Linked DNA regions of Homo sapiens: all the other regions are linked to region 2. The links come from fine-mapping of genetic effects on gene expression. A gene starts in region 2. Each other region holds a variant in brackets. All regions are shown on one strand. Distances are from middle to middle. Region 1 overlaps DNAH7 (dynein axonemal heavy chain 7). Region 2 holds the start of STK17B (serine/threonine kinase 17b). Region 3 overlaps HECW2 (HECT, C2 and WW domain containing E3 ubiquitin protein ligase 2).

Region 1 (8,000 bases), 360 kb after region 2:
AAGGGTTTATATTCAACGAGAGGAGGAAGTACCTATAATTTTAGGTTTTCTAAATTAAGAAAAAAAGGAGGGAAGGAAAATCTCTCTCCTTATTTTCAACATAAAGAATTGAGTCTCTTATTTTCAATTTTTACTTGTCCTAATACTGTAACACAAATCATTTATCCATTCTACTGTTGAGGATATTTGGGTAGCTTCCAACTTGGGGTTATTATGAAATTTTGCTTCCTTGAACATTCCTGTACATGGCTTTTGGTGCCGATATGTATCTGTCTTTGGTGGGTGTATATCCAGGAATGAAATTGATGACCACAGGGCATGGTTATATTCCCTTTTAGTAAATACTGCCAATAGTTTTCCAAAGCATTATACCAAGAGAGAAACTTTGATCAGTCCTATTTAATCTTTTTTTTGTTGTTAAAGTAAACTAAGAGTTTCCAATTAAGAAGCTAGCTCCCAAATCAGAAATTAAAAAGAGAATGAGTTCTCACAGAAATGATCTGTTTTTCTGCCAATCATTGATAGTCATCAAATAACTGGTAGACTTCAGGCAGTTATTGGACGATAGTTCTACCAAAAGCATAGAAAACATGTGACTATTAACACTAGCCAACCTGATTGTTTTAGAATCTTAATATTGGTCTAAAATTATTTCTCATTTCTTTTTATTTAGGGATATAAATGTATTTCATTCTTGTTTGTCTTCTGGTAGTGATTATTATATGGTACCAAGAATGTATTATGTTACGACTAGTATGGTATATACTGTGCAATTGCCATAACTTGGATCATCTGTTATTTATAAGATTTTAATGCATTAGAATTTATGTAACAGAATAAATAACTTTATGTAGCAAGCAAAATAAAACAAAAATAACATAAATATAGAAACCAAATCTAACTAGGATATGGTTTTGTTAAATATCCTGGAATCAATCTGTTGCTGTACAAATATGCATGTATATGTAATTGTAACCACCCAATGGGTTCTTCCTGTCTGCCGCCCATAGAAAATCAACCCACTGAGACCATGACATTGTGATAAAGAAAGAGTTTAACTGATGTGAGGCCAGCCACACCATGCTGAAGATGGAGTCATTACTCAAATTAATCTCCTGAAAATTCGGAGGCTAGGGCTTTTCAAGGATAGTTTGATGGGCAGGGCGTTAGGGAGGAGGGCATGCTGATCGGTTGGAAACACAATCATAGGAACTCAGCAAGGAAAACAGTCTTCCCTGAGTCTGCTTCTGGGTGGGGACTGCCAGAGGAGTTGCTGGTCTAGGTGAGGCCATCCAATAGTCAGAAATGCAAAAGCCTGAAAAGATAGCCCAAAAGGTCAATCTTAGGTTCTACAATAGTGATGTTATTTACAGGAGTGATTGGGGAAGTTGCAAATCTTACCACCTCTGGTATCATGGCTAGTAAACTAAATTTCTTCCAAAGTTAGCTTCGCCCATGCCCAGGAATGAACCAAGACAGCCAGCCTGTGAGGCCAGAAGCAAGATGGAGTCAGCTATTTCAGATTTCTCTTACTCTCATAATTTTGCAAAGGCAATTTGATAATTACGCACACAGTTTTTTTTTTCTTTCACTTCTATCAAGACCATTCTCTCATGTTATTAAGTATTCTTCTGAAACATAAGTTTTAGGAGTTGCACAATATACATACCATTGTATGAATGTACCATAATTTTTGTATTATAAGACTTTTGGCTGGGTGGGGTGGCTTACACCTGTAATCCCAGCACTCGGGGAGGCTGAGGCGGGCAGATTGCTTGAGCCCAAGGGTTCGATACCAGCCTGGGTGACATGGCAAAACCCTGTCTCTACAAAAAATGCAAAAATTAGCCTGGCGTGATGACATGCACTTGTAGTCCCAGCTACCTGGGAGGCTGAAGTGGGAGGACTGCTTGAGCCCGGGAGTTCTAGGTTACAGTGAGTTATGATCATACCACTGCAATCCAGCTTTGATGACAGAGACCCTGTCAAACAAACAAATAAATAAAAACACTTCTAAGTGGTCTCCAGCTTTTATATTGTAAGTAATGCTGCAGTAAATATAAGTGTCTGCATCTTTGATTATTTTCTTAGGCTGAAATCCCAAAATTAGGACAAAGGTGTTCACTTCTTGCAGATTCCTGATATAAATTCCTTTCCTGGAAGATTATTCAAACACACAATTCCATCAGAGGAATATGAATGATCCTATATCACTGTATCACTCACCAGCATTGAGAATGATAATTTTAATCTTCTTTTTCACCTTAAAAGGTTATTAACATATCATATTATATGTCCATTTTTACTAGTGATTGAACCTGAACTTATAATATGATTAACCTTTATAATTTCCCTTCAATCTTTCTGTCTACAAGAAGAGACTTGTTTTAAAGTGCAGAAAATTTTGTTTTACTCTGAAAAGACCAAATGTGAGTCACCCTGTATTAATTGTATGGTACTGCTACAAGTGAGACAAATTCAATGCCATGCATGAAAAGACAACCTATTAGCATAATAATGGGGACAGAAATAGTATGTTTATTTTAAGTCTTCTAAGAATTCAACTGTATTTTAGCAACTATTGCCAAGGCTTTCTCTACAAAAACCTTTTTTTTGAAGTTCCCAATTAAAAATAAGATACATCAATTTGTTGTAATTCTCTTTATGGGAATGCTGCAGGGGATAAAATAGTTAAGAAAATAGGCACGTAAGGAAAAGTGGGAAAAAAAAAAAAAAGCTAGGATGATTGACAGCTTAGAATATCAGTTAGGACATTGCCAAAATTAGCCAGGCATGGTGGTGCACGCCCGTAGTCCCAGCTACTTGGGAGGCTGAGGCAGGAGGATGGCTTGAGCCAGGGAGGTGGAGGTTGCAGTGAGCCAAGATTGCATCACTGCACTCACTCCAACCTGGGTGACAGAGTGAGACCCTGTCTCAAATAAATAAATAAATAATAAAAAGGAAATATTGTGATTATTCCTATTTTCGTGTTTTGCCTCTAGCAAATAAAAATGGAGTTTGCCAAGTTTTGTGATTTCTTCAGCTTTTATGAATTTATAATGAGTAGCACAATACTAAATTTAATAAAGAAGCTACTAATTTTAGACTATTCATTTAATATACAATATAAAACATTTGAAATTATTTGTTATAAAGAGGTCAAATTTTACCCCCAGAAATGCTTTGTAGATAAAAACAGTCTGTAAACTTTTTAATCTAACAGATTAATATACCATCCACTAACTTTTTTCCAAGAGGAAGATTAAGTTTTAAAAAAAAAAAACTCAGTCCACAGTAAAATGCAATTGGACTGAAGTGTTTCTACATTGTGTAGCTCTCAAATTGGTACACCCAATTAATGAGGATTCTTGATTGTTTGGGGGGTAATTGACCAGAAAGTTTATCAGAAGAACATACATGTAAGTTTCTTAAGAGCATTATCTTTAAAGTATATTTTTATTTATTTCCTTTATTTTCTGTTGACCCTTAGGCTTCAGATTCTCAAGGATCACTTTACTTATTCACTGTATGTTAATGTCTGCCGGTCACTCTTTGAAAAGGATAAGCTGCTCTTTTCCTTTTGTCTAACCATAAATCTACTGCTGCATGAGCGGGCGGTCAGTACTGTTTTCATTTGTAAGAAAAAAACCCTTAATAACGCTGATTCATTAATTTATTAATTTGTATGGGAATATATATAAAAAGATTGTAAATAGTTAAGCAATAATACTGTTTGTTATTATAGTTAAGGCAAGATGTTATCAGGAGGATAAATTTCACAGAAGTGAGATATAAATTAAGCACAGATTTCATTATGTTACTATTAAATTATGTTTTATTTTAAAATAAATTGATTATATTAGATTTTCATACAGCTATGCATATAAATTTACTTAATATTGATACGTTTACACCAGGTAGTAGTGTAAATGTTTTTAAAGACTTGTGCAAATTACTGAAATCTGTGTAAAGTCACTATTTTATACACTTACGTGTTTAAGATTTATGGATTTTATATGGTGATGTATTGGTTGAATTCTGAAGAAATAAATACTTTATTCTTGCATTTCTTGCAAAAGTTGTGTATCAGTAACTCATTATACTTTATGGAAAATAGTCAAAAACATGGCACATTGATGGGTTTCTGCCTTTCTACAATTTCTAGAGCCAATAGGGCTCTAGGCAGTCATTTTGGAAAACACGTATTCGAATAGAACATATTCAGATTTTCACATTTAGACAAGTAATTCTGGAGGAAAATT[G/A]TCAAAAAGTAACTATTTGAAATGGAACTATTTTGAAAACTGGTTATCATGAGTATACTGGTTTCCTATGAATAAATATTGAGCTATAACACTAGCTATAGAATTTCATAGAGACCACATCTGAAACTTGGAAGTCAACACTCAACTCTTTTATAATGGTTGTAAGCTTACTAGTTTATGATGAACTCGTTTCTGACTCTTCACGCTGCCTTGTTTTCCAAAGATTAATAAAGCTGAGTGGAGATTTCTGCTAACTGGTGGCATTGGACTGGATAATCCTTATGCCAACCTTTGTACATGGCTTCCTCAGAAATCCTGGGATGAAATATGTCGATTAGATGATTTGCCTGCCTTCAAAACCATTCGTAGAGAGTTTATGCGCTTAAAGGATGGATGGAAGAAAGTATATGATAGTTTGGTATGTTTTAACCCTCTCACTTATTCCAATGTTTTTAAATGGAGAAAAGAATGTTAAGTATCTTTTCATAAAAGCAAGATTTAAATAAGCTTTAAACAACTGGTCACATGTTAGAATGCAAATTTTGATTTATGTTATCCCCCCTTCTAAGTCAGTGGTTCTGTTTGAACTTCCATTCAAACTCCTTGAAATGTATTAAGATGCAAGAATGCTGTGTGGTTCTTGAGAATATACTTGTTGAATTTCCATGCCAGATTTTTATTCATTATCAATGTAGATTTTGGCAATCCTAATAGCAGATGAGTTAAAGTTTATGGAACAGCTGTTGTTTAGATTTTCTGAATGCAGGATACAAGCTGATAAAATTCTGTGTGTGTGTCATTTGAGAAAAGGAAAAAGCTTGTACAGTAGTTCTAAAACAACTTTCACGAGACCTTGTTTTACTAACTGGGGAGTATTATACTTGACACAGACATAATATTCACAGTTTCCCATCTGGGATATATAGCAATTGTTGCTTTCTCTCAATTTTTCTTTAACACAAGGGCTAATATTTTTCCAATTCCCAGTTAATTTTTTCTATTCCTTTGTTTCTACTCTCTTGACTTCCTGCTTTCTGTGAGTTTAATATGCAAGAGCTCTCCTAGGGAGAGGTTGGAGGAAAGAAAGCTAGATATGCAGAGAGTATGTTTTGTTTGGTTAACCTATACTTTATTTTGTTACCTATACAACCTATATTGTTGTATTATATGTGAGAATGAGATTATGTCTTCACACGAATTCAAATATTTGGAAGTGATCTCTTTTGGATTTCTCCTTGTTAGTAATAAAAATGTTTTCTAGAGACAAGTATGTGTTGTGAGTACCTCAACTAATTTAAAATTAAAATTTTATTACTATGCTGAAGCATGAAGATTTCTAATTTGAGATACCACATAGCTTTTCCTAAAGTTTCACAGGTACACGTTTCCTTTTTTCCCCACCAAGGTTTACCCCTTCTGGTACCCTGATGGCTCTCTTCTTGTGATTTTTTAATAGCTCTCAATTGGCTTCTTCATTACACACATTCTCAAGTCTTCCTTTATAAAACAGTATTTTTAAAAAACAAGAAATAATACAATAAATTTCAGTACAATACCCTTTTTACTTGTTTTGAAATATTTATTTATTTTTGTAAATAGATGATGAGGTAAGTGGGTAGGTTTTTAAAAATGTTTTTGTTCCAGCTGGGAGCAGTGGCTCATACCTGTAATCCCAGCACTTTGGGAGGCCAAGACAGGTGGATCACTTGAGGTCAGGAGTTCAAGACTAGCCTGGCCAACATGGTGAAACCCCATCTCTACTAAAAATACAAAAAGTTAGCTGGGTATGGTGGTGCACCACTGTAATCCCAGTTACTCAGGAGGCTGAGGCAGGAGAATTGCTTGAACCCAGGAGGCAGAGGTTGCAGTGAGCCAAGATCACACCACTGTACTCCAGCCTGGGCGACAGAGCAAAACTCCATCTTAAAAAAAGAAAAAAAAAAAGAATGCCTGTGTTTGGAGGAATAAAGGGAAAATAGTAGCATATGCACATTTACTTTTTTCATAATAGGGATCATTTTGTCTGTTTATTAGTGTTCATGTCGACATTAACCTGATTAGTTCATGTCCTTGTTTTGACTCCTTTAAAGAATATTAACTTTTCTTATTATTATTTATTTTATAATGTCCCAACTTTACACTAAATAGTAAAATTTAGACAAGCATTCTTGATTTCATTTATATATTCTAAAAGTTGGTTTATAAGTGAAAATACTGTTCTCTTTATAATCTCCAAAATAACTGAATTATTTACACTGTAATTTTAGGAACCACACCATGAGGTTTTCCCTGAAGAATGGGAAGATAAAGCAAATGAGTTTCAAAGGATGCTTATTATTCGTTGCTTGAGGCCAGACAAGGTAAATGTGGGCTTTGAAAACAGCTCAATGATTCCAAAGCCTTATGCCTGCTCAGTCCATCCAAATGTGCGTTTCCTTATGTAATCATGGGGGAGGTAGAGGAGCCTGCGGGAAATAATCCCACTTCTTTCTAATGCAGACATTTTTTTCAAAAAGTTTGTATATTTTTCTAAAACCATCCTAAATCAGTAACTAGTTGGATTATATTGTATAATTTTATTTATTTTGTGATTATTTGTTTTTAATTTATGGTTTTCAGTACTCACAATCTACTCCCTTTACATATTTGTAGTCTTATCTTTACTGTTAATACTTTGGTGAAATTAGTCAGTGATGTCAACATCAAGCTGATAGACTAGAATCTGTGGACTTCTCAAGTGCTATCCTTATATATAGTTTTTTGTTGGAATTTGAATTTAAGACATTCGTCATTATTGACAACAAAGGAAAATGTCAATATTGTTACTTTTAACTTCTTTAAATAATAAATTATATAACCAGTGAATCAGCAGACCTGTTATATTAGCAAATGTCAGTATTCATTAACATCCTCATTTGTATTAGATAAAAAAATTCACCTATGAATATTGACCGATACCACAAAGATATCAATGTGCTCTAAAAAAAAAAAATAGACATTAGCTATGTTGGAAAAAATTGAGAAAATATCCTAGTTGTCCATTATTACCACTCAAATTAAAGTTTGACATAAATATTTCAAAACTTATATTCAGTTTCATCTGTTAAGGAATAGGAGAAATATCTCCATCCTAACCAAAAGAAAAAAAAATAAAGCAGAATTTAGATTGTCAAAGTAATGTATTAATTTTTTAAAAATACACATCAGTGATAATATGGGTTAGGGGCATTTTTCCCTCTATGAGCCCTACTCTGTTCACTGAACACATGTAATTCTTGCATGATGTGGCAGTCTGTTCTTAGCCAAGGCCCAAGTATCCATTAGGCACAGGAGGCACAGTGCTTGGGAACCAGAATACTTCCAGGGGTCTATGAAAATGTTGTAGTTTCTTTTAAAATCAGAAGAATATAATCCAGTGTGTGTATATTTGTCTTTATACCAACAATGGTAAAATATAATTTTTAATTTTTTTTAAAGGAGAAAGGGGCCTATGAAGTACCTTGGGTCCACGAAAGTCACTCTGCTACCCCACTCTCTTATGCTGGAAGTAACTACAGTAGTTTAGCATTCTTTATGACCCTGGTGAGACATCCTACCCCTTGGTAGCCCTTTTAAAAAATGTAATCTCCATGAAAATGCTAGTGTTAAGCCTCACAAGTTTTCACTTCATATGTTAAAGATGGGAGAATATGAGATGCTTCACACTGTTGTTTAATGTGGCTTCCTCCTCTAAAACAT
Region 2 (8,255 bases):
TCAACTTCTCTCACTGTAGGTTTCTTCCCTTCTAAAACAAGGGAGTTGGGTTACTGAACTGCAAGAATTTTTCTAGCTCCAGACTGCTCTGATTGTCTCTAGCACTGGAAATTTAGACACAATTAGAAGGCACGTTTCTAGCCCTTCAGACCTACACTGCCTAACTTAGTAGCCACATGTGGCCATGAAACACTTGGGATGTGGCTAACATGACAAAATTTTCTATTTTATTTCATTGTCATTAAATTTATATTAAGAAACTGATACTGTATTTAGTTATTGAAAAACTTTATTTATTTTTGAGACAGAGTCTCGCTTTGTCGCCCAAGCTGGAGTGCAGTGGTACACAATCTCGGCTAACTGCAACCTCTGCCTCCTGCGTTCAAGTGATTCTCCTGCCTCAACCTACTGAGTTGCTGGGATCACAGGAACCTGCCACCATGCCTGGCTAATTTTTGTATTTTTAGTAGAGACGGGGTTTCACCATGTTGGCCAGGCTGGTCTTGAACTCCTGATCTCAAATCATCTGCCCGCCTTGGCCTCCCAAAGTGCTAGGATTACAGATATGAGCCACCACACCTGGCGTGAAAAACTTTAGTTTGTTCAAAACAACTTAGGAATGTGAATCTGCTTTTTGCAACAGTAAATTTTGTGAAATCTAAATACAGATCAAGTGTTTCCGATGAAAATTTGGCATCTGAATTGGGACATGCTGTAAGTATAAAATACTAGATTTAAGACAATATTAAAAAAGGAAGTAAAATGTCTCAATAATTTTTGTTGATTACATGTTGAAATGACAATGTTTTAGAAATATTGGGTTAAATAAAATAAATTGTTAAAATTAATTTTATCTGTGTTTACTTTTTAAAATATGACTAGTAGAACATTTGCCAATGTGCGTGGCATTTCTTTTGGACAGCTTTTACAGGACAGGTTATACTCTATAAACTGCAGTGAGTGGTTGGATTGGCATATTGGCCCTAGTTGATCATGGATGTTTTGGAGAGGAAAGCTGTGTCACCCTTTAAGGAAGACACTTGTACCAGTCTGAGTTATTACTCTCATCAGACAAAACTAGCCCCAATTAGCTTTGCTAATAGTGTTTCAAGAGAGTCAGGGGATGTGAGGTCTCTTAGAGTCTCTCTGGTTCTCAGTGCTTTCAAAATTGCAATGTGCTGTAGGCACCATGAGTAAATGCACTGCGACATCTCCATCTGAGTACACTCACTATTCCTACCTCCAGAGAGGGGATCTGTTTGGAGGAGCCTGTCTCCATTCAGTGAGCACCCCTGTTGGGTGGGGGGTTGAGCCACGCCCCTTCAGAGGCTGTTGGCCTTGCCTGCGTCTGGCTACCTTTAGCCTAGCCACAGGTTTCTGGTATATTCAGTTCTAGACAGGTAGTAGAGCTTGTTTTGCCTTTTCCACATGAATTCTTCAGAAGGAGGGTGTGTCAGTGGCAAGAGTTTTGAGTTTGAGGCCTTCTGCTCTGTGCAAAACCCTCCTTTTCTGCATCTACAGGGAGTAAACATGGAATCGGTGAGAATCACTTTCCTTGATCATTATGTGGTCAGTATGCGGTGACTGACTTGATGTGACTGGGGAAGGTCCCTTCCCTGGACAGAATATGGTGAGTGTCGTGCCATTACCGGAGAGGATCACCTTCCCTGGCCACATGTGGTAAGCAGTGACTGGGAACGATCATCGCTCCCAGTCAGTGTGTGATTACTAACCTGGAGTGATCCAGGAGGACCACTGTATTTGTTTGCTTGGACTGCCATAACAAATACCACAGAGCGGACAGCTTAAACAACAGACAGTTCTGGAGGCTAGAGGCTGTTGATCAAGATATCAGCAGGTCTTGTTTCTTCTGAAACCTCTCTGCTTGCTTTGCAAATGGCCACCTTCTTGTTATGTCCTCACAGGGTGGTCCCTTAGTCAGTGTTGTATGTGTCCTAATTTCTTCTTATCAGGACACCAGTCATCTTGGATCAGGGGCCACTCATATTATCTCATTTTACCTTAATTACCTCTTTAAAGGCCCTATCTCCACATACGGTCATACTCTGAGTTCCTGAGGGTTAGAATTTCAACGTATGAACTGGAAAAGAACACAACTGAGCCCATAACAACCGCCATCCCTGGTCGGAATGTGTCATTCAAGGATGGTCAACTTAATGAACTGTGTGGTCAGAAGCAATGACCACAGAATGACCATCAGGTCACCTGGAGATTTCCTACTCAAGGGAATGAGAGCAGGAACATATATCTTTGACACGGTGATGAATGAGTTTAGGTAAATGAGGTGGATGGAGGAATGTATTGACTTCTGAATTTTCCTGCAAGGCCACAGATGTACTGCCTCCTCCTCAGCACCAGGAATTCCTTGTTACTTGAACCACAGTGCCTGAGACCAAGTAAGTGTAGTTGAATGTCCTTGGGATAGTGTGGTAAGTCCTAGTTAACAAATCTGACATCAGGCACAAGGGTTAACAATCTATTTAGGGTCATAAAAGAAACACAAACTATCAGCCCTGCACCAAAGAACATAAGGCAGAGGTGATCAGGCTGGGAACAGAAAGTAGGAATCAGCAGAGTTCTGATTCCTGAAGAGGGTAACCTTCTTAAAGTCAGAAACTGATGAACAGGTATGGATGAGGAGGATGGTGATAAGCTGGAGCTAAGGCAGAAGCAGGAAAATGCAAGACATGACAATATCCCTAGGAGGCTGGCTGGTTACAGCAGAGGTATTGTGACCAAGAGGACTGGCTTACAGTGGTGCCAGAGAGAGAAAAGTCTGTGTCTAGGTGTGAAGTGATCTGGGACTGGATTAGTGACGGGGAGTATGGGGTGAGTGTGAGAAGATTGCTAAAAGCTGGCAATTGATGAAATGTTGAAATTAAGGAGGTCCAAAGTTAAACACACAACCCCAAAACCACCATAATGATGTAATCCTGTGACCCCCAAGAGGTTACTAGTTTTGGTACTGGTGCTGAGACCTCTGGAATGCAACACCTATGCTCATGAAAGAAAAGATGGGAACAGTCTCATTGCTTACGGATTCTTATACCCCAGAAAAGTTAATTCCAGTGTGTGGCATTTTATTTTCATCCTAACTTTAGGCTTCTCTAGTCAGCCCAATTGTTAGCAACAAGAAATTAGATAGATGGAAGCAATATTCTCCATTTGACAAGGTTTAGGGGCAAGACATTATTAACCTGGGAGGAGGAGTTAACCTAAGTAACAACAAACAGACTTCATAAAAGGGCTGTGATGCATTCTATACCTTTATCTTGGGGAAAATGCAGTAGGAAAGGGAAACAGCTAGCTTCACAGGAATTTGCTTGGCTTACTGGGATAGAACAAGAAAACCTGTCCTTTATATGCTAACTGAACATTAAGTCTTTTGAAAGCAAGAGGACGACTCCACTCCCAGTATCCTTTCCCACGGAAGGGTTTTCTGCAATTATCGTAAATGTCCTCTGAAAGCAATCCTAGATTACATAACTAATCCCATATATGTATGAGTATGTGTGTATCCTATACATATAAACTAGGATTATATATCTATGTAAAACATTTGTGTCTTGCACAGAACTTTGAAAATTTCCACTGTCTTCAAAGGATAACAGATCTTGAGTAGGTTGCTGAGGGCTTTCATCTTTTTCCTTAGCACTATAAATGCAAAATCGGCTATTCAGCCTATTGGGACCCTCCCTACACTGCCTTCAGTCAGTGCCTCAGAAGGGACACCATTCGCGACAGCGGACGTTAGCAGTGGGGTCTAGGTTCCATAAATCCCCAACTGATGTTGACACTCCGAGGAACCTCTGCCAAGTTGTAGCAAACTGGGTTCTCCACTTACAGGGTACGTTCCGGTCCTAAGGAAGACTCTCAAGAAGAGTCAGAAAATAGGTCTTTGGTAGGCACTGAAGTTTGGTAACTAGTCGCAGGCAGCTGGGACGAATTTTGCGGCTTCCTTCTCCCCGGTCTCCGGATATTCACACCTCTCGAACTGACCTCTCTGAAGGTGGGAAGGAGTACACAGAGCAGTAGTTCCAGCCCCGCGCGCCCCCTCTGCAGCGCCGCCCCCTCCGCCCCTCCCTCGCGGCAGCCCGAGTGCGCCCCACCTGCGCCGCCACGCCGCCGCGCCTCCCCGCCCCGCCTCGGGCCAGCCAGGCGCCGCACCCTCTCACCGCCGGGCCCCGCCCCGCACACGCGCCCCCGGCCGGTGCCCCGCCCCTCCCGTCACGTGACAGACCCACCCTCCGCACCCGTTCCGATTGGCTCTCCCGACCTAGGGGGAGGGATCTGGCGAACGGCGATGCCCCAGACGCGGCTGCAGTTTTCAAACCGCGACTGCAAGCTTCGGTAGTCCTCTCCGCTGCTGTCGCCAGGAGTCACTTCACGAGAAGCCAGGTCACAACCGTCGGCCCTTGTCTGGAAAAGTAAAAGTGGATCCTGCCACGTTCGGAGCTCCCTGGCGCCTCGCCCGGCTGGAGCTAGAGAACTCGTCCTGTGGCGGCCCCCGGCGTGGGGCGGGACAGCGGCCCCCTGGAGGGGGCAGTCCCGGGAGAACCTGCGGCGGCCGGAGCGGTTAGTGTCCTGCGGGATTGGCGGGTTGGCTCGGGGCTGCGATGGAACCAGCCGCCTCGGTACAGAGACCTCATACGTGAGGAAGGAGGACCCGAGGAGGGTTTAGGCGGTACGGTCCGGCTGAGAGGGGCTTGGACTCCGCCGCCCCTGAGGTGGCTGATTGCTGCTGGCGCCTCTCCGCTTTGCGGCTGGAGTCCGGGTTCCCTGGGGCTCCGCGCGGGGGGCGGCCGGCGGTCCTCCCACCACCCTCCTCAGCCCGGGGCGCGTGTCTGTGTCTGTGCGTGTCCGTGTGTCCCCGTGCGCCCTCCACCCGGCCGGCCCCGGCTCTCCCCAGGTCGCGCCAGGCAGGGCCCCCTTCGCGGCGGGCCCGCGCGGGTCCCTTCCACAGCAAGGCCACGCGGTCCCCCTAGCCTCTCCCGAGTCCCAGCTGCGGCGTGGGCGCGTTCCCATCGGGACTCGTGGACGCGTCCTGCTCCCAGCTGCCTTTCGTCTAGAGAAAGTTCGTGTTCATCTTGTGGGACGTTTTCAGTTACTGCTTGGGAACAGTGTTTTAAAACCAGCGAGAGATCAAGACGGGCTACAGCTGTTTCCGTGATTTTCAGCGATCTGATTTTTGCTTTGATGCCTTGTGACCCACTTAGTGTGCACGACTCATCCTCAAACTATACCACTACTGGATGCCAACGATTTTTGACATTTACCCAGGCTCTTTGTTTTATTGTAGGGAAAAGCGTTTCATTTGAATTTCCTCCGAGGGAGAAGTAGAGACAAAGTTGAAAGAGGCTTTATAGCAGCTGGTAGCTGGCATTAGTTTCTGTCTGGACTAGAGGCACTCTGACATCAATTTGGAAATTGGAATTAAGAAAATACGTTTTTAAAATCGTAATACTTATCAGATTTCACTAATATTTAAACACATGAGGACTGTGTATCACATTCACCGATTGTTTTGTCGACGTAATGTTTACATCTGTGGTGCTAATGATAAGCAGAACCTTGCCAGGGACGTTTGACGTGGTGTGGCCACTTTACGTTTTCAAGTCTATGAGAATGTCTGCGCGGAGACAGCATAGCTCTGTAGAAATGAGTGGCAGCGTATGTAACCTGGCATTTTGAACCCAGGAGCACAATTTTATTAAAGGAAAATAAACCTACTTTCTCATTGATAACACTGTTTTTTAGTTTTATGGTGAACTGTTCGGAAGTAATTTTCAACAAGTGCTTATTTTATAAATATTAGACCGTGTACCCCTAGGATTGTGTATTTTTTAAGAAAACTGGTCCATAGAAGCGGTGCAAAAGTTTTAAACTCATCTGCCTCGGATCCTCCTCCTCTGAGCAGATGCTCAATTAAACTTTTTCTAGTATCTTAATAATTGGAGGTATTAATAGATGTTTTATTTTTGAGATACATATTGTACATTTTAGATCTTTTTTTTTTTCTAAAGTAGGGATCCAAAATTGAGGTGAAATATATTTGCTTACATGGCAAGACTTTTTAAAAGTAGAATTTCTGTAATTGAAGACCATCCTTTTTTGTGTGTGAATAGAATGGTTGCGGTTTCTCTTGGGATCATTGATTAGTGAATTACGATTTGGTTAAGATAGAATGCGTTTTTAGGAAGTTGGAGGTTTGACTAATCGCTGTGTTAGCATATGAGTAACAAATTTGAAGAAGATACAAGCATTTTTATGGCTGACGTTTCTAATCAGATAATTTTATTTTTAAGCTTGCTCTGTTTTACTTTTGTTAAGTGAACATTTTAACATGTTTTAAAGCTCTTTGATAATTATAAGGGAGAATTTCCTTATGAAAATATTTTTGCTTTAATTTTAGAGACACAAGAAGTCAAGGAATTCAGTTAATAACACTTTCACTTAATCGTTAAATTGCCTTAAAATTGCATGCATAGTATATTGTAATTCACATTTTCTGTATGTAAGATTGGCAGTTAAGAATAGTATTCTGGCCGGGCGCAGTGGCTCAAGCCTGTAATCCCAGCACTTTGGGAGGCCGAGGCGGGCGGATCATAAGGTCAGGCGTTCGAGACCAATATGGTGAAACCCCGTGTCTACTAAAAATACAAAAATTAGCCGGGCATTGTGGCGCGCGCCTGTAGTCCCAGCTACTCGGGAGGCTGAGGCAGAAGAGTTGCTTGACCCGGAAGGCCGAGGTTGCAGTGAGCCGAGATCACGCCACTGCACTCCAGCCTGGGCAACAGAGGGAGACTCCGTCTCAAAAAAAAAAAAAAAAAAAAAAAAAATAGTATTCCTAGGCTTACTACTTTTAAAGGATACTGATTGATTCTTCTTTTCATAAAGAAATCTTCTGCACTGTATGGGTATTTGTTTTGTCAGAAACATTAGCAGTCATTTATCTACTACCTTTCCACTTAGGAAAACTTCAAATGTCAGTTGCTTTAGTTTTTCATAATATTGATGACAAAATTCAGTGATTTTATGTTTAAGTACTGTAGTTTGTATTCTATGCTGGGCTGTTATCAAAGGCTATTTCTTTGAATATTTCAGTTAAGAAATGTTCTTATAAAGTTACAAGCATGTATTTTTATTTAAATATGTTGTAATGTTGCAATTTTCAGGGCATACTTTATTAAGTTTTTTATTATCCTTTTTCCAGAACATTTAACCTCAAACTTCAGTGCCATTTAAAACATATATATTAGTTTCTTTTAATATTTATATGCATTGTATTTTGGTTCATCCCTGACCCTTTGCAATTACTCCAAAAGAGGGTGTAGTGATACTGTAAGCATTGAAAAATTTTAACAGTGAGATGGTAATTTCCTCTTTAATCCTTAAAGGCAGATTCCATTTTGCATTGTAATAGTTACTGAATAAATAGTACTTAAGCGGTGCTATTAAGTAAACAATATTTTACAACAGAAACCCAATTTTCCGTCTTGTGAGTGACAAGCACCATGCATTTGTTGCCCACCCCGGAATCCCCCACTCTATTTCCGTTTTTCAACCTTTTATCCTGGTTCACAATTAACAGGTTTAACTCTTTTTCTGGAGGTGGGAAGACACAGCATTAGGCCTTAGGGTCTTGGCACAGAGTCAGGCCTAGGAGTCATTGCCTGACACTTCAGCCCTTGGATAGTATATACTAGAATGGTTGGATTAGAGTTAGTTTAGCTGACTTCCTATTGTGATTTTTAGAGGATTAAGTTTATGAATTATATTTTCTGTTCAAAATATTTTAAAAAACAAAACCTGTTGGCAGAATACATATGAGGAATATAATCTCTTCCTTGAAATTGAAAATCATCATCATTTCCATCTTGATACCAATACTTCTAATCAATGACTAATTAAAAACACATACTTCTGCCACACCAGGAGAAAGTTCTTCCTTTACTTTTGATGGACGTTAAATCTCTTTTTCAGTTTCCTAGGGAAAGCTTGCTAGCAGTAAATGCCTTAAATGCCTATGTAGAAAGGAGTTGCTTCCCTTAGAATCTTCGGGCTTACTTTGCTTCCTGTTGCCTTTCCAATGTACTTCATGATGATCTAGACTTATCAGTGATAAATCTTGATAGGACACTTACCTGAATCTCCTGATTTTTGGAGGCTCTTAAAAGAGTGATGTTCTTAACTGCAGTAGGTATTTGTATTAGTAGCTTATATTAAAAACAAGT
Region 3 (8,285 bases), 35 kb before region 2:
TAATTTATAAAAAGAAAATTTTACAAAAAATTGCTAAGAAATATATGTATATATTAAATATATATTAAAATACCTACATATGTATCAATCCAATGTCCACCCAATGTCCACTACTAGCTGGTCATGGTGGTGCATGCTTGGAGTCCCAGGTACTTGGGAGGCTAAGGCTTGAGCATGGGAGTTTGAGTCAAACCTGAGCAACATAGAGAGATACCATTTCTGAAGGAAAAAAAAGTCAATTACTAAGATAAGCTCTGTTAACATGTTAGAGTATGTGATTTCACTCATTTCTTCAGGTACACACAGGCACACAGACACACACATACACACACACACACATTTTAAAACAACATTCCGTTTATCACATGGAACATCTTTCCATGTCATTAAATATTGCTCTGTAATGTTATCAATAATTCAGTTTTCCCTCCTCCATTATAGGGAGCATTGTCTACTGTCAAAGTGAATTATCAGCCAGTATACCGGAAAATAACCAAGTCCTGAAATACAATGTCACTTTCCTCAATTAAAAGAAAAACCAGGCTGGGCACAGTGGCTCACGCCTGTAATCCCAGCACTTTGGGAGGCCAAGGTGGGCAGATCACGAGGTCAGGAGATGGAGACCATCCTGGCTAACATGGTGAAACCCCGTCTCTACTAAAAATACAAAAAGTTGGCCGGGCGTGGTGGTGGGCGCCTGTAGCCCCATCTACTCGGGAGGCAGAGGCAGGAGAATGGCGGGAGCCCGGGAGGCGGAGCTTGCAGTGAGCCGAGATCGCACCACTGCGCTCCAGCCTGGGCGACAGAGCCAGACTCCGTCTCAAAAAAAAAAAAAAAAGAAAGAAAGAAAGAAAAACCATCAGAACAAGAGATGAGTACTAGAAGGACCCTTTGGGGCCATCTCCTTTCTATATTTGCCCTGAGGTGTCCCTCGTTGGTCTTCCTAATTCCCTACCGCCTGCTGATGAGCTGATGTGGCTTTTCGTGTGGGAGAGAATTGACAGGAGATTCTCATACAGTGGTCTGCTCTGTAGTTGAACCTCAGGTCCAAGACTCTCTTCAACTCCTTTCCCCTCTGCCCTCTCACTCAGTTCTATATAACTGTATTTTAAATTTTCACTTTATTCTGCCATTGAATCTGCATGTACTAACAAAAACATGCCAGAGTTAACCCATCACATCACCATATTAAAGATTCTTAAATGTCATATACCTTTTGGATTGGTCTTTACTTTGGGAGGTGGGTAAATTTATCATAAAAACAGATTGTATTAAAAAAAGGGACTCTTCTGTAATTAATGTAAAACGTCAAGCTATTGAAAGAATTTGTGACTTTAATGGAATGAGATAATCATTCCACTTGCATTCCATCAGCATTGTTGCTGCTGACAACAGAGGACAGGATAGTCCAAGTCAAATCTACTAAAGGTCCTTGAGAGCTATTTCACAAGTCAGATTTTAAAGTGTCTATTTGTGAGTGACAGACATTGCAACAGTTAAAGAATGCTTACCCACTTTTCCTTGGCCTCAAGAGCAAAAACCAGTTTGGGCTCATTTCTTTCCACCAGCCTAGTCCATGACACCATCCCCCCTCACCTGGACTACTGCAGTAGACTGCTGGCTAAATCCCCTGCTTCTCCTGCATCCCACCATTCATTCATTCTGCACTCAACAACCACTGGGATCTGCAAACATCTCAAGGTCACCTCCCTCCCTTGCCTACACCCTCTGGTGGCTTAGAATAAAATCCAGACTCCTTCCCAAGGACTTCCTGTGGGGCCCTGGTCTGCCTCCTCCTGCAACCTCAACATGTACCCTCTCCCCCAACCCATGACACCTACCAGCCTCCTTCTGTGTATTCCTCAAATATGCCAAACTCAATTATGCTTCAAGGCTCAGGGAATTGCTGCCTATAACACTTATCTGCTGGTCCTTCATGCCTGGCTCTTTCTTGTCCCCAAGACTCGGGTTAGAGGTGATCTCCTGAGAAAGGCCCACCAGGCTTCTGTCCTTAGTGCACCTGTCACTCTTTCACCCCTTACTTCCTTCACTAGGCTTGACCCAATTCAGTCATCATGTTCAGTTATTGGTTTACTTGTTGATTATCTGTCTCCTCCTCTGGAGTATAATCCTGTGAGAACAAGTACCTTATCTGAATTAAACATGGCTTTGCTCCTAGCAGTGAGCCCAGTGCTTAGCACATGTACTCCATAAATATTGTTTTTAGTGAATTTGAAATCTTTAGGGATAACTTTGGACCACTCCAGACAAGAAATTCCAAAATCATAATCCAGACTTTCATATCTCTGTATCCATATCTGAAAAGTTGGGATAGAAATTAGCATTTATATTACAAAGTTGTTTTGAAGATTAAATGAGATAACATGCAAAGTGCTTAGAATAAGGCCTAAAACATCATTCAATAAATTTAGCCATTCTTACTATTCTTCCTAATATCTAGCCTTCAGGGCTGGCCGGATACTTTATAGTCTTTAGGTGTGTGAGAAATGTGCCATATTCACCCAGCGTGTTTGTATTTTGTTTGGACTTACAGGGGTTTCCATTCCTGGAACTGTCCTTACTGGACTTTGTTCTGTTTGGTTTAAATTCTTACATTTGAAAAGTATGTACCCTCTTTATCTCTCCCCAGAGGCATTCACAAGTGAAGAAGGTACCTGCTCAGAATGCATAGTTTGAAGAGTTTCTTCTGCTAGTTACCCCAGATACAGGAATTCCCCCCTATGGGAATATTCCACTTTGTATTTACAGATCCAAGTGCACCTTAACCAAAGTGACCTAATGAGACTTTGGAATAAGACATTAATTAGTGAATAGATTAATTCCCCTCACCCGTCTATAGATACTCCTCATGGCTTTACTAAGTGCCGAACCTTGTGGGAGATATACGTTGACCTTAAAACACAGGGAGAGAAGCAATGGATATTTACATGAACAGATAACCAACATCATTGGTCCCAAAATGGAACATGACCAATGAGTAGTTGGAATAGCAAGCACCATAGAATTTCTTTCCATGAATTCACCTTTACCGAACACCTGGTGAAGGTCAGGGCATTGTGCTCTGCTGCCATAAGTTACACACATATTTGTGCCCTACTCTTAATAGGAATTTCTGCTCTAAACCTCATGGCCTAAGAAGGTATTCATGAGGATATTAGATAAATTATGAATATTTTAAAAATTCTAACAAGTTTTACCATTAGTTGTGTTAATAAAGCTACCCAGGCTAACAAAACTATAACTGGATTCCTTTAATGGAATTCGATCACTCTATTTAATTGGTAACTTTGGATTTCTCATGCTGATTTCACGCCCTTGAATTCATCATCTGTCCCTCTACCCATTTCCTATATTCCCTGCCTTATTTAAAGATACCTCTGCCAACCCACTTTTCTTTCTTTCATCCATGAAATAACTGGAAAAGGTTTTTGCAAGAACACTCCTGGCTTCCTGATGTGTCCCTGCCTCCCCATCTGGCCTCAGGTCCAACCTTGCCTCCTGTCCCTTAGGCGCTTGCCCCTCTCAGGTTTCCTGATGATGCAATGTCATGTTCCATCTGCTGGGAACATCCTTCTCCTTGTTGTTGATTCAGAGAAAACCTGCACACCTACAAATCTTTCAAGCCTTGGCACAGATAGTGTCCTCTATGAACCTTCCTTGGCTCTGCTGAGCAAACTTGTAACTCATAGTATTATTAACTGTTTGTATGCAGGGCCACTAATAGCCCATCTTTGGGACTAATGAAACAAAGGTGTCTCCTAGCCTTTTGGAGAAATGCAGCCTGCAGCTAGGGCTCACAATTTGGCAAGCAGAGCCAAAGGAAGGCTGGATTTCAGTTCCTGCTTGCCCCAGAGCACAGGATACACAAACTTTAGAGGGTCTTTTTGCCTGTATATTTTGCTGCCACAGTGTAAACTCCTTGAGGACAGAAACCAGACTTTTCATCCTCATCTCTCAGAGGACAGCTGAATCCCTGGCATGGAGTATATGCTTAGTAAGTACTTATTCAGCGAGTGAAGGAATAAATGAAATATAATGCAAATTGGAAAATTAAGTACATTCACATACAGAGAGAGAAATTAATCAACAAACCAATCTATGGAAATGGAAATGTAACTGATACTTTTGGCTCACTGGATTTATCTAATTGACTTGTCTATCTGTAGGGAAAAAGGGAGGGTAAGCATGTGACCTCCTGATTAACATTTTTGAAGAATCCAGAAAGCACCAAGAGATCTATTAAGTCAGACCAGATGTCTGGAGAATTTTTAAATCTTCTTAATATTGATGCCAGCATGATTTCCCAAAGATGGGTTCAGACCTGCTTTCCTTGAGTGGTTCTGGCTAAATAGATTAAAATGAGGTAAACCCATTATAGCTTTAGTGTGACTGGCTTTGAAAGATTTGAAAAATGTTCTTTTATTGAGACTGAATAGCTGGATGCACTTTTGCTGCCAACATCAACACAGTCCAGGGCCCTCCTGTTATTTTCTGCTAAAGTTTTCTTAGGACATGGAATGGGGTGGGAGTGGGGGTGTGAAAAGCCTCCAAGGATTATGTGTTGCTTGCCATTTTTTTTGTTTTTTTCCTGGCCTTGGCTCATAGAGCAAGTTGATGGTAAATATTGGGCAATTTATTTAACCACACTATTCCTCAATTTCCTTATTAGCAATGCTGTCTTGTTTATAAGGAGTTTTGAAATTTCTGCAAGCACATAAAACACTGGTGCAAATAGCCAATGTAGGTATCATGTTGCTAATCCACTTGATGCCTCTCCAATAGTGGAGACCACCTGCATCAGACTCACTTGGCATATTTATTAAAATGCATATTCCCCCAGGCCCACCCCAAACCTTCTGAATTA[C/A]AATCACAAGGGGTGCAACCAAAAATCTCCATTGTAAAACAAGCTCCTGGAGTGATTTTGATACACTCTAAAGTATCCTTTTGAGTATTTGCCTTCTTCTATTAAGCCTGAGATTGAGCTAGATGGTATGATCACCTAAAAATCCCCTGGTATTTTTCAGGGTTTTCTGGATTGACTCAATCTCAGCCATTTTCCCCAGAGCTACTGCATATTGTGATTGAATTATTCATTTAAAAAATATCTGAAGCTTTATTTTGCCAATCCTTGTCCTCAAAATGTGGATAATCTAGTAGGATGTTGAGGAATAATAGTTCGTAGTCAGAGGTAGGATAAAATTAATACTCAGGCTTCCAAAAGTAAAAGAATGAAGCCATGAGCATTAATCTCCCCGCTTTCAGTTTAATGTTGGACTTTCCCTAGGAGACCCAGAACTGAGGTCCTTTTCTTGATTTGGCCACTGACTCAGCTTTGACCTTGGGAAAACCATTTAATCTTTCCACACAGTTTCCCCCTCCACAATATATGCTTTCCCCATCATCGCGAAATATTTTCCAGAGGAGCTGTTTAGTTTATTAGAAGGAAAGTTGTGTTATGGTAACCATATATTATGCAACCAGATGTAATTTATGAAGCAGCAATAGCCTTAGATTATGGATTAGTAATGCTGATTATGTCTTACGACTGCAGAGGAACAAAAAAGGTTGTCTAGTCCTTCCCTTTGCCTTCCCTTTGTGTTGAGAACTGAAAAGAGTATTTAGGCTTGTGGATTTACTGGATAAGCTTCTAGAGTACCTGCAAAGATACTACAGAAATGGCAAAGAGACATTCAAAGTTCCTGTTTCTCTACTCAGAAACCTGGGAGAATGAAAGAACTGTTGCCAACCCCTAGCTTTGTTTCACCACCTGTCCTGGATAGATGATTCTACTGTATCACACTTAACATCACATTTGCCACCTTTTCTTGAACTGTTTCACTACCTTGAGACCTGTTACTGGTTCTACTGATGCAAAACAAATTACCACAAATTTAGCAGTGTAAAACAACACACATTTATGATCTCACTGTTTTCATGGAGCAGGCATCCAGGCACAGCTTAGCTGGGTCTTCTGCTCATGGTCTCACAAGGCTGAAATCAAGCTGTGGGTGGGGCTGCATTCTCATTTGGAGGACCAACTAGGGAAGAATCTGCTTCCAAGTTCCCTTGGGTTGTTGGCAGCATTCATTCCTTGCAGCTATAGAATTCATAGTAGCTTCCTTCTTCAAATTCAACAACAGTGAGAGTCTCTCTTGATTTTAATAAGAAATCCTAAGGCTTTAAAAGGTGAATGGACTTCATACCCATTACAATAGCTATTATAAAACAAACAAACAAACAAACAAAAAACAAGAAATAAGTGTTGGTGAGGATGTAGAGAAATTGGAACCCTTGTGCACTGTTGATGGAAATGTAAAATGTTGCAGCCACTATGAAAAATGCAATATGATGTTGCACTTCTGTGTATATCCCCCAAAAAATTGAAAAGGAGGACTTAAACAGATAATTGTACACTCATGTTCATAGGAGCATTATTTACAATAGCCAAACGGTAGGAAAAAAACTCCTGTTCATTAATGGATGAATGAATAAAGAAAATGTGGTATATACATACAATGGAACATTATTCAGCCTTAAAAAGGAAGGAAATTCTGACCCATGCTACAACATCAACCTTAAAATATGCTAAGTGAAATAAGCCAATCACAAAAGACAAATATTTTAAGATTCCACTTATATGAAGTACATAGGGTAGTGAAATTCATAGAGACACAAAGTAGAATGGTGGTTTCCAGGGGCTAGGGGGAGAGGAAATGGGAGTTACTATTTAATGGATACAGATTTCAGTTTTGCGAGATGCAGAAGTTCTGGAGATGGATAGTGATGATGGTTGCAAAATAACGTAGGTGTACTAATGCCATGGTACTGTGCACTTAAATATAGTTAAAATGGTAAATGTTATATTATGTATATTTTATCACAATAAAAATACTGAAAAGTTAATCGGGCAAGAGAGATGAACATATGGATCACAAAACAGGAAATGTAAAAAGCAAGAGGACATGGGGGAAAGATGCTCAACCTTATTGGTAACCAAAGAAATGAAAATTGTAAAATAGTATTGTGGTGTCATCTGTTAGTCTAATAGGATAATAAATGTTATTTGTCTGACACACACAGTTTGGCATAGAATTATATTCAAAACGTATTCTACTTTTCTGCTTCTTCCTCCCCTACCCCTGGAACAGAGATAAATCTTTATTTAATATTTTTATTCCAGTGTTTCACAGATGATAGATTATAAACCACTGCTAGGACTCTAGTGTAGTATACAAGTTGAATTTTTAAATAAGTAAAACCTTTTCTTGAGGCTCAATTTGCGTTCCAGTCTAAGGATATCAAATGCAATTCTGAAATGCTTATTGTATCAAAAAAGGGTTTGCCTGCAAAGATTCATTAGATGATTTCCACCAATATATCCCAGAGTTTACAGTACTAGGAGTGGGTGAGTCGGTACTATCTCTATACCCTAAAACTCATACAGTTGGAGTATCCCTAGTCAAAAAATTTTAAATCTAAAATGCTCCAAAATCCAAAACTTTTTGAGTGCCAACATGATGCCACAAGTAGAAAATTTCACAACTGACCTCATATGACAGGGTGCAGTCAAAAACGCGGTCAAAACTTTGTTTCATGAACCAAATTATGTAAATATGGTATAAAATTACCTTCAGTCTGTGTATACAAGGTGCATGTGAAACGTAAATGAATTTCATGTTTAGACTTGGGTCCCATTCCCCAAGATATCTCATTATATATATGCAAATATTCCAAATTCCAAAGAAATCTGAAATCCAAAGCACTTCTGGTGCCAAGCATTTTGGATAAGGAATACTCTATCTGTATTCTTACAATATAACAGATCCTGTTCACATTCCTGTTTTTAATAAGCCATGTGGCCACACACCTGCTTTATTATCCCTTTATTATCTCATCATTCTCATGGGTCATTACTATTTGTGGCAATTCACTGAAGGCAATTAGAGTCAAATCTTGTTGATAGTAATGAAATGTAGCTAACAATACCTCTATTATTAATTGGTCAAACACTATGAGCCAGTCATTCTATTAAGCATGTTTCTGTTATTTCACTTAATCCTCACATCCTTCTCAGACAAGTTATATAACCACCCTTTTAAAGGTGAGAAATACGGGCTCAGAGTTTTAATAACTCACTCCAAATCACACACTTGTTGATAGAGCTAGAATCCAAACCCAAATATGTCCAACTGCAAATCTCTGGTCTTCCCACTACATTACACTGCATCCAGGAATATTAATTATATTTATTTCATAAGGAAAAG

The links. PIP is the estimated chance that this variant, and not a neighbour inherited with it, causes the effect.
Region 1: its variant is fine-mapped to the expression of STK17B in whole blood (INTERVAL, PIP 0.99).
Region 3: its variant is fine-mapped to the expression of STK17B in whole blood (TOPMed, PIP above 0.99).

The regions. Positions count from the first base shown.
Region 1 is chr2:195,805,362-195,813,361 of GRCh38, reverse strand. DNAH7 (dynein axonemal heavy chain 7) reads left to right here. Exons shown (of 65, transcript NM_018897.3): 52 at 3,491-3,617; 53 at 4,486-4,680; 54 at 6,530-6,622. Among named protein-coding and RNA genes, the nearest start is that of SLC39A10, 150 kb to the right of the region's middle. The variant G/A (reference allele first, on the strand shown) is at 4,263.
Region 2 is chr2:196,167,674-196,175,928 of GRCh38, reverse strand. It overlaps STK17B (serine/threonine kinase 17b), which reads left to right and starts at 4,351. Exons shown (of 8, transcript NM_004226.4): 1 at 4,351-4,596. LOC101927454 (a long non-coding RNA gene) reads right to left here and starts at 4,390. Exons shown (of 2, transcript XR_923737.2): 1 at 4,298-4,390; 2 at 3,081-4,024. RefSeq lists silencers at 4,056-4,285, 4,806-5,025.
Region 3 is chr2:196,202,319-196,210,603 of GRCh38, reverse strand. All of the region lies in intron 28 of HECW2 (HECT, C2 and WW domain containing E3 ubiquitin protein ligase 2), which reads left to right. Among named protein-coding and RNA genes, the nearest start is that of STK17B, 35 kb to the right of the region's middle. The variant C/A (reference allele first, on the strand shown) is at 4,886.